Linked DNA regions of Homo sapiens. The protein of the gene in region 1 purifies or fractionates together with the protein of each later gene. This does not show direct contact. Each region holds a gene or a part of one and is shown in the gene's direction. Other genes may lie near its edges.

Region 1 (3,649 bases):
TTCATGCTTGTTTTCAATTCACTAGAAGAAAATCTAACTTGTCAGGAAGCAAGTACATAATAGGAAGTGTCTGTCTTAGTTTGTCTTCAACAGTTAAGAAAATGAATGTTTCCACTCTTACTACATTCTTAGTCACCTGTCCACTGACCAAGAGCCTTGTGGCCCTGAGTAATCATTTAGAACTTGGAATCAGCAGGGGCGCTCTCTCTAGTTGCAGTTTAGGGAATGGGTTATTAGCTTTCTAGGATATTTATCATGCTTTGAAATAATTTAATGAATTTTATTCCATAAGATCCAATTCAGGTTAGGCTTGTTTGATTTTTTTTTTCAGAAAATGTATTCCATAAAGTTTGTACTTAGACCAGACGGGTGTACTAAGAATCATTCATGAGTAAATGTGTGTTGAATATCTACCCTTGACCTTTTTTTGAGAAATAGAGTAAACACAGTCCCTGTAGTCTGACAGCTAATGGGGAGAGAGGGTAGACTTTTCATCGAATTAAATTTCTACATGCACCTTTCCCCCAGAAATCTTACTCATGGCTGGTCTCAAGTAAGTCTTTATTGAAAAATATTGACATATCTTCTTCCTCTTCCTTCTCCTCACTGTCTTCCTTTTAGTAGTTAGGCAGAGTTAATAGGTAAGAAAAATTATCTGCATTTATGTGTAGTTTGTAATCTACTAAAGGGGTTCTAGAATAAATGTTGACATTTTGTAACTTACATTGTTGTTGCTACTGATTAAACACATAACCCAAGTGTGGATGAACTCTAGCATTACAAAGCTTAAGCACCTCAGGCTCCTATGATGTTGTAATGGACTCTTTTTACAATTAGAGTAGGGTGGGGTAACAGAGGGTCTCAAAGAAAATGCATATTTAAATTTCAGGCTTCTCAGATAACCTCTGGAGCCCTACTGTCTGGAAACAGCCAGTTTCCATGCTGTTACAATAATTTGGCAATGGCAATTGGTTAATCTCCAGTTTCTTTGCCACCTGAAATTTTGAGTTGTTCAGCCAGTAGATATTGGATTAAATAGAACAACTTTGTTAAGCTGGTTTAATAATGATTATGAAAAACCAAATAGAGAAAAGGTGAAAATAAGGCAGAATTGAGGAGCATGACCTTTGGCATATCATCAGAGTAATAGCAGTAAAAAGGATTAAAATATTTCTAATTTAAGAATAATGGCAATAATAATAGTGATGTTGATGGCAAAAGTGGCTTGTCAGAACTTTAAACTCTTAGCCAGGCTTGGTGGCACATGCCTGTAATCCTAGCTACAAGTAAGACTGAGATGAGAGGATCCCCTGAGGGAAGGAGTCTGAGGCCAGCCTGGGCAACATAGCAAGACCCTGTCTTAAAAAAAAAAAATAGAATTTTCTCATTAGTATAGTGGTGAGTTAAAAAAACACACATAAAACTTTACACCCCAATTTAAGTAGGACTTTAAAAAAAACTTGTCTCCTTGAAAAGTAATATTTATGAGAAAAGGAACATAATGTACATTGAAAGAATTGTGTTAGATAATCAGAAAACATGTACAGGATGAGTCAAAGCCACACAGACCTGAGAAAAGTGGTAAGTGGGAGAGATTGGCAGAGGTGCCTAAAATATTTAGGATGGAAGAGGTGTCTGTTTTTGGTTGGTTAAGGACACATCCAGGAATGAATTCATTGGTGAGAGAACATTAAAGCCTCAATTTCAGACATAATTTTAACTATTATTCTAATTATGCAAGTAATATATTTTAAAGAAGACACTAAAAGTATTTTAAAAAGCAAACTGGTATCACCCATAATTCTACCACCCAGAGACAACCAATATCAACATTTTGGTTTGTTTCCAATATGTGATATATGTGTTTTTTCCCCTATCACACCACAAGCATATTATTAAATGATGCTTTAAGAAAATATTTCAGGGCTGAATGCAGACACACCTCTGAATACCAGGGCTTTTTCATTTTCATTTTTGCAGCCACAATTTCATTACAACATCTCGATGAATTACCTTTTACACAAATCTGTGTTTCTGACTAACTTTCTAAAGGATAGATTCCTGGAAGTGGAATAAGTAGGTATAAAGGCATCAATGCTGAGGCAGATATGTATTGCCAGATTGTTTCCAAAAAAATGATTCTCTATTAGTTTGTGCTTCCGCCCATCTGAGGGCCCTTCTCTCTGCACCCTCACACATCTTTGAATACTCCTTAACTTTATTGCTGATCAGTTTGTTAGGTAGAAAATGATAGTATTTAATAGCTTCAGAAATTCTTGGTAAGAGTAGCTTTAATTTCTGAAAGAGGATTTGGAGTCTTTGGAATGGCCTTTTTTCCTTGAGAGTTGGTAGGAGAGTAAATGATATATTCAGGTAGTGGACTTACATAAGAAGTAGTTGTGTTTAGTGACGTAAACTGTTCTATCAGATTAAGTCAGAGGTGAAAGCATGGTTGAATTAGAGAATATACATTATGGCAAGTAGAATGCTAAACGATTTAAGATGATTTTAAGACACTTGTAATGGCATAAGGGTGAAGTTTGGGGAAGCTTTCAGAAATCCACTGTGTGGAATTACCAACGATTCTTCCCAGGAGAGAAAAGAGGTATATGAAAAATAATATGACAGTACAGGAAACTCTGGATTTAATGTTAAAAAGATATATGCATAAGATGGATTCCTGCCTATTTTTTCCCTCTGCTTTTAAAACCTGCTTTCTTACAAAGTCTAGAGTACAGCATTTTTTGCTCAGTCTTTTACTTCTTGACTTTTTTCCTTTCTCTCAACACTCCAGTCACTTCTACTTTACTAATTGATTCTTTGGCAAAAATCACTCCGAAGGGAGCAGTTCACACAGGCAAGCAAGAATTTGTCAGGCACTGTGCTTTTAGGTGAATAAAGTCCAGATGGTGCCTTGTCTTTACATTGTTTTGATTCTTGCCAGTTCTAGATGGGAATCATCATCAATGGCTACTACATACCACTGCAAGAAAATCACTTCTATTCTTTGCTTCAGCTTCGCCCAAAATGTCCTGTGGGATGCTTTCGCCTTTGTATTTCTAAATCTCCATGTAGGTATACTTTTGGCAACAGAGCTACTTTATCTCCCCACTTGTAGCAAATCTGTTTCATTTTTAATATTGCCACATTCCAATGGCAGGTTACACCGTGGTTGATGAAAAGGAATTTAATAGTTTTACAGATTTTAACTTTTTTTTTTTTAATTTTTTGAGACTGAGTTTTGCTCTTGTTGCCCAGGCTGGAGTGCAGTGGCGCAATCTCGGCTCACTGCAACCTCTGCCTTCCAGGTTCAAGCGATTCTCCTGCCTCAGCGTTTCTGAGTAGCTGGGATTACAGGCATGTGCCACCACGCCCGGCTAATTTTGTATTTTTAGTAGAGACGGGGTTTCTGCATGTTGGTCAGGCCGGTCTCGAATTCATGACCTCAGATGATCTGCCGGCCTTGGCCTCCCAAAGTGCTGGGATTACTGGTGTGAGCTACTGCGCCTGGCCCAGATTTTAACATTTTATCTACTTGTCTCTTTCATAGAATATTTGAAAATTACCCCCCCAAAAACTAGTTTCTAAGCTATGGAAAAAGCAATCTCATATAAGAATGAAATCTCTTTAAGATATTTCACATTTGTGC
Region 2 (3,649 bases), on another chromosome or scaffold:
GACACTGGGCAAGCCCCTGGGAGAAGGTTGCTTTGGGCAAGTGGTCATGGCGGAAGCAGTGGGAATTGACAAAGACAAGCCCAAGGAGGCGGTCACCGTGGCCGTGAAGATGTTGAAAGGTGAGCGGGGAGGCGGGAGGCTCGGGGAGGGGCTGGGTGGAGAGTCTTATCAAGAAAGTTCCTTTTGTGGCATGTGAACTCTATCATGGCACGGGGTCAGAGAGCACATAGTTGACCTAGGGGTTGAGAAGTTTTCGGTATAAATCAGCATCTCGGACAGACTATTTATCTTGAGCTGTGTGTACTTATAAAGAAAAGCCAGTTTTGTTAGAAAGCGGTAGCCTCCTACATAGAGTTATTCTTTGACTCCTTCTTCGTGACCACAATTCTTCATTCTCTCTGTATTTTTATGTGCTTAGAAATTATCAACTCACATATAATTGAATTTATTAGCTAGGAGTTGGTGTGTTAGATTTGGGACTTAAACCTTAACTTTACAAGTACAAGAAAATTTGTGTTTTTGGAGGGAACGAAGAGACGTAAGGGAGCAGAAAGCCTTCTCTTTTGCGTGAGGAACAAAGCAGAAATGACACTGGTCTGGGAGAGTCACTTAGAAGCTGAGAAGGAGTGAACAGGATCAGGGCTGGTGCAGAGCCTCCTGGGACACATAAACAATTACCCTGAGATGTAAATGTCGTGTTGTGTTTGTGGGACTGTGAACACTTCTACGTTAACCTTCCAACCCTGCTTCATGCCCATGTCCAAAGAACTTAAAGAACTTTTAACCATTAACTTATTCGTCCTGCAGTATTCTTTTATGAGAAGAGTTATAGGGAACTGTCACATTATAAATCCTCTTGTAGGGATCTCGGAAAGAAGATCCCATGCCGAGTGTTTCCCACGTTTCCAGGCAGAGAGGCCCATCCTTGGGATATGGTGCTGGGCATGTCGCAGGCGCTCTGGAGTTAGGCTTTGTCTTTCTTTTGTGGGTTCTCATGGGATAGTCATCACATCCCTCCCAAGGGGAAGTAGCAGGCTGGACTTTGTCAACAAGATGTGCATTTTGTTTTTTGGGTTTTTTAAAAGGCTGTTTATCTGAGTGACTCCCAAGGAAAACTAGAGTGCTTTGAGATGTTCCCCACCTTGGAGCCTGATGCCGGGGAGGAACACTGTGCTGTCTTGCCCCAGGTGTCATGGCACCACTGACTGAGGCAGCCCCTGGCTGCGTACCAGGGCCAGGTGTGGGGAGGACCCAGGCTTCTCATCTCTTTTGGCGGAACTTCTGGTTTTGCTAATGGAGCTCAGAGTTACATGGGATATTGCAAAAAGGGAGGTCTGGGAGTTCTCTTTCTCTTGTGATGCCCAGGCTGGCAGCCTTCCCTGTAAGGACACAGAAGGATATTAGTCCCCAAGCCATTGTGGCGTGTCCTTTCTTACAGCCCACGGCTGTGTCTCCCTCCCTCCTCATGGCCCGTGGCTCCCTCCTTCACATACATCAGTGTAAATTTTGCACACACAGTCACTTGTATTGATCTTCCTTTTGTGAAGCTAAAAAACTGTTTGCAACATGGTTCTTATCCATGCCCATATTTCATTTTTTTTTTAAAGGAAACCCAGATTTTTCCATACTGAATTAGCTTGAGGTGGAGGGCACATGGGAAAGTCTTGCCACTTAGGAGAATCTAAGAGAAGCTAACTGCGAGCCCGCGTATGTGGAACCTGTGCCATTCTTGCTTGAAATTACAGAGCGGAAGTTTATGTAACTTTTCTTAGGATGGGAACTGCAGTGCCCTCTGAGAAGCCACTAGAAGTCGCAGCCCTTTACCTGCTCAGAATGCACATGCACACACGTTTATGGCCCTGTTTATGGGGAACCGTCTGAACCCACCTCGGAACGCTCTAAGGGCCTCGAGGGGCTGGGTTAAGAATGCTTGGTCGGGAGCAAGTCTGTAGTGATTTGAAATGGCCCTACCCTCGGTCTCCTCGCTGGTTTCAGGCACCATGAAGTTTGGTGTGGTTTTCTGAGACGCCTTAGATATGGCAGAGGATGAGATTATCTCATGGTCTAGGAAAGAATTGGCATTAGTGTCAGAAGCCCCTGCTCTCGTCCTGACTCTTGGCCCCATTGGCCCCCCAGTGAGCTCTTTGACACAGAGTGAGGCAGTTCCCTGTGTAGGCCTTTGTCCCTTCCTCGATAAAATGAGGGAGATGATTTGGAAAATCTTTTCTGATTCTGAAATTCAATTTCATGCTGTTTCAACTAAGTCTTTGGCAACTAACAGTAGCTGCCCATGAGTTAGAGGAAATGAACTGATTTGTGAATATGCCTACTGTTCATAGATGATGCCACAGAGAAAGACCTTTCTGATCTGGTGTCAGAGATGGAGATGATGAAGATGATTGGGAAACACAAGAATATCATAAATCTTCTTGGAGCCTGCACACAGGATGGTGAGTAGGAGGAAAAACTGCATTCGCCCAAATACTCTGCAGTTTGATTGAATCATTTTAGAAATGGCTGGGCTTCCAGATCCTGCTCCCAGAGCACCCTGTGTGCATGTTTAAAGTTCTTTTTAAAATCCCCATTGGAAGATGTTCCTAGCCATGAACACAAAGAAGGGTCTGTGCCCGTACCTGGGGGCCAGTGGAAAGGAGGGTGCAGGTGACTTTGGATTTGAGGGCCTAGAGGGCGCTGCTGTTTCTAGGTCATAACCTGGAGGGGGTTTTGGAAAAGGCAGCCTCCTTATGTTTTTGTTTTGTAAGTGCTAAGAGAGATTTGTCAGAATAAGATCCTATGTTTTGGTTGAGAAGTTCTTCCCTTAAAACAGGGATTGAAGAATCCACATCTTGCTGTGGGTCACAGATGGCTGAGCTCCCAAGAATAGCTTAAAAGAGGAGAAAGCGGTATGAAGGAATACGTTATTTTCCCTGGGGGAGAGAGACCCTGGCTTCTTCCATTGAATGTTTACTGGCACTTTGAAATCAATTTGCTAAGTAATTAGTAAACTTGAAAACGCCTATCTTTGACTTAGCAATTTCTCTTGTAGGTCTATATAGTAATTGGTGAACTTTTTCTGTAAAGGGAGGTCGTAGATATTTTAGACTTTTGTGGGCCGTATGGTCTTTGTCGCAACTTCTCGTGTCTGCCATAGTAGTGAGAAAGCAGTGCTAGAAGTACAGAAATGAATGGACCTGGCTGCATGCCAATAAAATTTAATTACCCAAACAGGCGGTAGGCAGGATTTGGCTTGCAGGCTGTAGTCTGCCAACCCCGAGCCTATACCATGGAGAAATTATTGCACACGTGTGTAAGGGAACATGTACAGAGATGTTCATTGCCTACTGTTTGTTATGGCTGAAACCTGGAAGCAAATGCCTATGCATATAAGGGAATGGATAAATAAAGTGTGGTGTGTTTATACGATACAGTATATGCAGCTGTGAAAAGGAATGATCTGGTTTTGTTTTTATAAGCCCAACAGGTTCCAAAAGGATAATGTATGGGTAAAAAATGTTGCAAAGATCTAAGAGCTTTATTATTCATTTATGTGATTAAAAATAATATATTACTTATTGAATAGTTAAAATGAACCAAAAGGATAGAGTGGAGGGATCCATTGCTTTCCAAGAGGGCGCAGGTGACAGCATGA
Region 3 (3,749 bases), on another chromosome or scaffold:
TGCACCCAGCCTCTGCCACCAGCTGTATGGCCTCCTCTTGGTTCCTTTCTCTGTAACCTGGGGAGTGCAGTAGCACCTGCCCAGTGGGGCTCTTGAGCCCAGGAACTGCTACACTCTGAACCCCACTCGTACTAGGGGCTCAGTAACAAGCAGCCGCCAGTGTGGTTCCTATATCCCGGGACTTCGCCTGTCTCCTGCGGATCACAGCCAGTGACTACTGTGCTCTTGGAGAAAGGTCCAGCCTCCAGCTTCCCAGGCTTCATTTGCATCCATCTCGCAGGCCCCAGCTCAGGCTCGTGCCCACCCACCAAGTTCCAGTGCCGCACCAGTGGCTTATGCGTGCCCCTCACCTGGCGCTGCGACAGGGACTTGGACTGCAGCGATGGCAGCGATGAGGAGGAGTGCAGTGAGTGGCCACGCCCCTTGGCGGGGCTTACAGGGGGCGGGGCCTGAGGGTGGTTTGTCAGGGGCCAGGCACGCGGAGGTGGAGCTTGTGGGAAAGGCAGGGCCGCAGGGATGGGTGCGACTTGGGTCTGTGGGTCATAAGAAGCGGGGTCTAAGATGGGCTTGGGCTGGGCGCAGTGGCTCACGCCTGCAATCCCAGCACTTTGGGAGGCTAGGGTGGGAGGATCGATCACTTGATCCTGGGAGGTTGCCGCTGCAGTGAGCTAGGATTGTGCCAGTGCACTCCAGCCTGGGCAACAGAGTAAGACTGTCTCAGGAAAAAAAAAGAAAAAGAAAAAAAAAAGAAAAATGAAAGAAAGGAAAGAAAGGAAGGAAAGAGAGAGGGAGGGAGCCAGGTACGGTGGCTCACACATGTAATCCCAGCACTTTGGGAGGCCAAGGCAGGCGGATCACTTGAGGTCAGGCGTTCGAGACCAGCCTGGCCAACACAGTGAAACCCCATCTCTACTAAAAATACAAAAGTTAGCTGGATGTGGCGGCAGGCCCCTGTAATCCCAGCTAGTCAGGAGGCTAAGGCAGGAGAATCACTTGACCCTGGGAGGCAGAGGTTTCAGTGAGTCGAGATTGCGCCACTGCACTGCAGCCTGGGCAGCAAAGGGAGACCCCGTCTCAAAAGAAAAAATAAAGAAAGAAACAAACAAACAAATAGAATAAAGTGGGCTTGTAGGAAGGTAGAGCTAGTGGGGTCTCAGGGGAAGAGCTTGCAGGGAGGCCTGTCCTTAGAAAGTGGAGTTAACAGTTGCAGGGGGCGGAGCCTTAGGAAGGGAGCATTTTTTTGGGCTCAGCTGTTCTTAGAGGGTGGGGCTTGCAGGGGATGGGGTTTCAGGGAGTACCTGGGCCTTCTTGGGTGGGCATTTGGGACCTGACCAACCCTGTGCCCCAGGGATTGAGCCATGTACCCAGAAAGGGCAATGCCCACCGCCCCCTGGCCTCCCCTGCCCCTGCACCGGCGTCAGTGACTGCTCTGGGGGAACTGACAAGAAACTGCGCAACTGCAGCCGCCTGGCCTGCCTAGCAGGCGAGCTCCGTTGCACGCTGAGCGATGACTGCATTCCACTCACGTGGCGCTGCGACGGCCACCCAGACTGTCCCGACTCCAGCGACGAGCTCGGCTGTGGTATGCACCTGCGGGGCTGGGGTGGACTCGTGGGTAGATGGGGACACCCACTGCCTGCTGGGGCGTGGCCAGGCTGGGGGCGTGGACACATGCCTTTGCCCGTGCCTGCATCCCTGTGGGGGAATCAAGACATCATTAGGGGCCGGGCCCGGTGGCTCACGCCTGTAATCCCAGCACTTTGGGAGGCTGAGGTGGGCGGATCATCTGAGGTCAGGATTTCGAGACCTGCCTGGCAAACACTGCGAAACCCCGTCTCTACTAAAAGTACAAAAAAATTTGCTGGGCATGGTGGCACACACCTGTAATCCGAGCTACTCAGGAGGCTGAGTCAGGAGAACCGCTTGAACCTGGGAGGCAGAGGTTGCAGTGAGCTGAGATTGGGCCACTGCACACCAGTCTGGGTGACAGCAAAACTCTGTCTCAAAAAAATTTAAAAAAGGCCGGGCACGGTGGCTAACGCCTGTAATCCTAGCACTTTGGGAGGCCGAGGCAGGCAGATCACCTGAGGTGAGGTGTTCGAGACCAGTCTGGCCAACATGGCGAAATCCTGTCTCTACTAAAAATACAAAAGTTAGCTAGGCGTGGTGGCGTGCACCTGTAATCCCAGCTACTCGGGAGGCTAAGACAGGATAATTGTTTGAACTCAGGAGGCAGAGGTTTCACTGAGCCAATATTGCGCCACTGCACTCCAGCCTGGGTGGCAGAGCCAGACTCCCTCTCCAAAAAAAAAAAAAAAAAAAGACATAATTACGGGCAGTCAGCTTCACCCAGCCTGGTTGGTTGAGGATAAACCCCAAGGGCTCCCCTGGGCATCTGGCCCCCTCACGCCTTCAGTGCTCTCTCCTCAACTACTGAACGCCTGGGCTTATTGCAGGAACCAATGAGATCCTCCCGGAAGGGGATGCCACAACCATGGGGCCCCCTGTGACCCTGGAGAGTGTCACCTCTCTCAGGAATGCCACAACCATGGGGCCCCCTGTGACCCTGGAGAGTGTCCCCTCTGTCGGGAATGCCACATCCTCCTCTGCCGGAGACCAGTCTGGAAGCCCAACTGCCTATGGGGTTATTGCAGCTGCTGGTAAGAGGGACTTACCCTCCCATGCTGGGGGCTTAGAGCTCCGGGGATTCAGGGGAGGTGGGTGGGGAGGGATGAGCTGCAGAACTCCCATCCCCATGTGTATGGAGCTTGGTGGGTGTGGGGGCTCTTGCCTTCCCCCTCCTTACTCCTCTGTCCATCTGTTCCCCACAGCGGTGCTCAGTGCAAGCCTGGTCACCGCCACCCTCCTCCTTTTGTCCTGGCTCCGAGCCCAGGAGCGCCTCCGCCCACTGGGGTTACTGGTGGCCATGAAGGAGTCCCTGCTGCTGTCAGAACAGAAGACCTCGCTGCCCTGAGGACAAGCACTTGCCACCACCGTCACTCAGCCCTGGGCGTAGCCGGACAGGAGGAGAGCAGTGATGCGGATGGGTACCCGGGCACACCAGCCCTCAGAGACCTGAGCTCTTCTGGCCACGTGGAACCTCGAACCCGAGCTCCTGCAGAAGTGGCCCTGGAGATTGAGGGTCCCTGGACACTCCCTATGGAGATCCGGGGAGCTAGGATGGGGAACCTGCCACAGCCAGAACTGAGGGGCTGGCCCCAGGCAGCTCCCAGGGGGTAGAACGGCCCTGTGCTTAAGACACTCCTGCTGCCCCGTCTGAGGGTGGCAATTAAAGTTGCTTCACATCCTCCGCCTGCCTCTGGGTCTCTGTCTCCCTTGGCCTGGGCAGCCTGGGGTCGCTGCTGCAGCCCCTCCTCCATGAGAGCCCAGCCCATAGAAGGTGGGACATGGACACCCAGCCCTGTGTGCAGCTACTGTGCTGCTTGCTTTTTGGGAGCAGGGGCAGCAGGGCTGGGGTGGGGAGTCTGCGTTAACATCAGGATTCTTGGAAGAAGAGCAGAGCTTGGGCAGTGCCTTCCCATTCCCAGGTCTGGGGACCCCCACCCACTGTGGCTTCCTCCTCAGTGCAGTGGAAGCCAGGTTTCCTGGGATGGTCTCAGACTCACCCTGTTTTAATTATTTTTTAATTATGTTTTTAGAGACTGCGTTTTGGCCGGGCACAGTGGCTCACACCTGTAATCCCAGCACTTTGGGAGGCCGAGAGGTGGGCGGATCACCTGAGGTCAGGA

What was found.
Region 2: the proteins of TSPAN3 (region 1) and FGFR2 purify together in Homo sapiens (affinity purification with mass spectrometry; 3 studies listed by BioGRID and IntAct, with this or other methods). This does not show direct contact.
Region 3: the proteins of TSPAN3 (region 1) and CD320 purify together in Homo sapiens (affinity purification with mass spectrometry; 3 studies listed by BioGRID and IntAct, with this or other methods). This does not show direct contact.

Annotation. Positions count from the first base shown.
Region 1 is NC_000015.10:77,061,110-77,064,758, reverse strand, and holds part of TSPAN3 (tetraspanin-3), read left to right. Parts: intron 1-3,649. UniProt on the Homo sapiens protein: Regulates the proliferation and migration of oligodendrocytes, a process essential for normal myelination and repair.
Region 2 is NC_000010.11:121,497,296-121,500,944, reverse strand, and holds part of FGFR2 (fibroblast growth factor receptor 2 isoform 1 precursor), read left to right. Parts: coding exon 1-119; intron 120-2,339; coding exon 2,340-2,450; intron 2,451-3,649. UniProt on the Homo sapiens protein: Tyrosine-protein kinase that acts as a cell-surface receptor for fibroblast growth factors and plays an essential role in the regulation of cell proliferation, differentiation, migration and apoptosis, and in the regulation of embryonic development.
Region 3 is NC_000019.10:8,301,688-8,305,436, reverse strand, and holds the end of CD320 (CD320 antigen isoform 1 precursor), read left to right. Parts: intron 1-280; coding exon 281-406; intron 407-1,348; coding exon 1,349-1,582; intron 1,583-2,456; coding exon 2,457-2,660; intron 2,661-2,831; coding exon 2,832-2,974; 3' UTR 2,975-3,310; downstream 3,311-3,749. UniProt on the Homo sapiens protein: Receptor for transcobalamin saturated with cobalamin (TCbl). Plays an important role in cobalamin uptake. Plasma membrane protein that is expressed on follicular dendritic cells (FDC) and mediates interaction with germinal center B cells.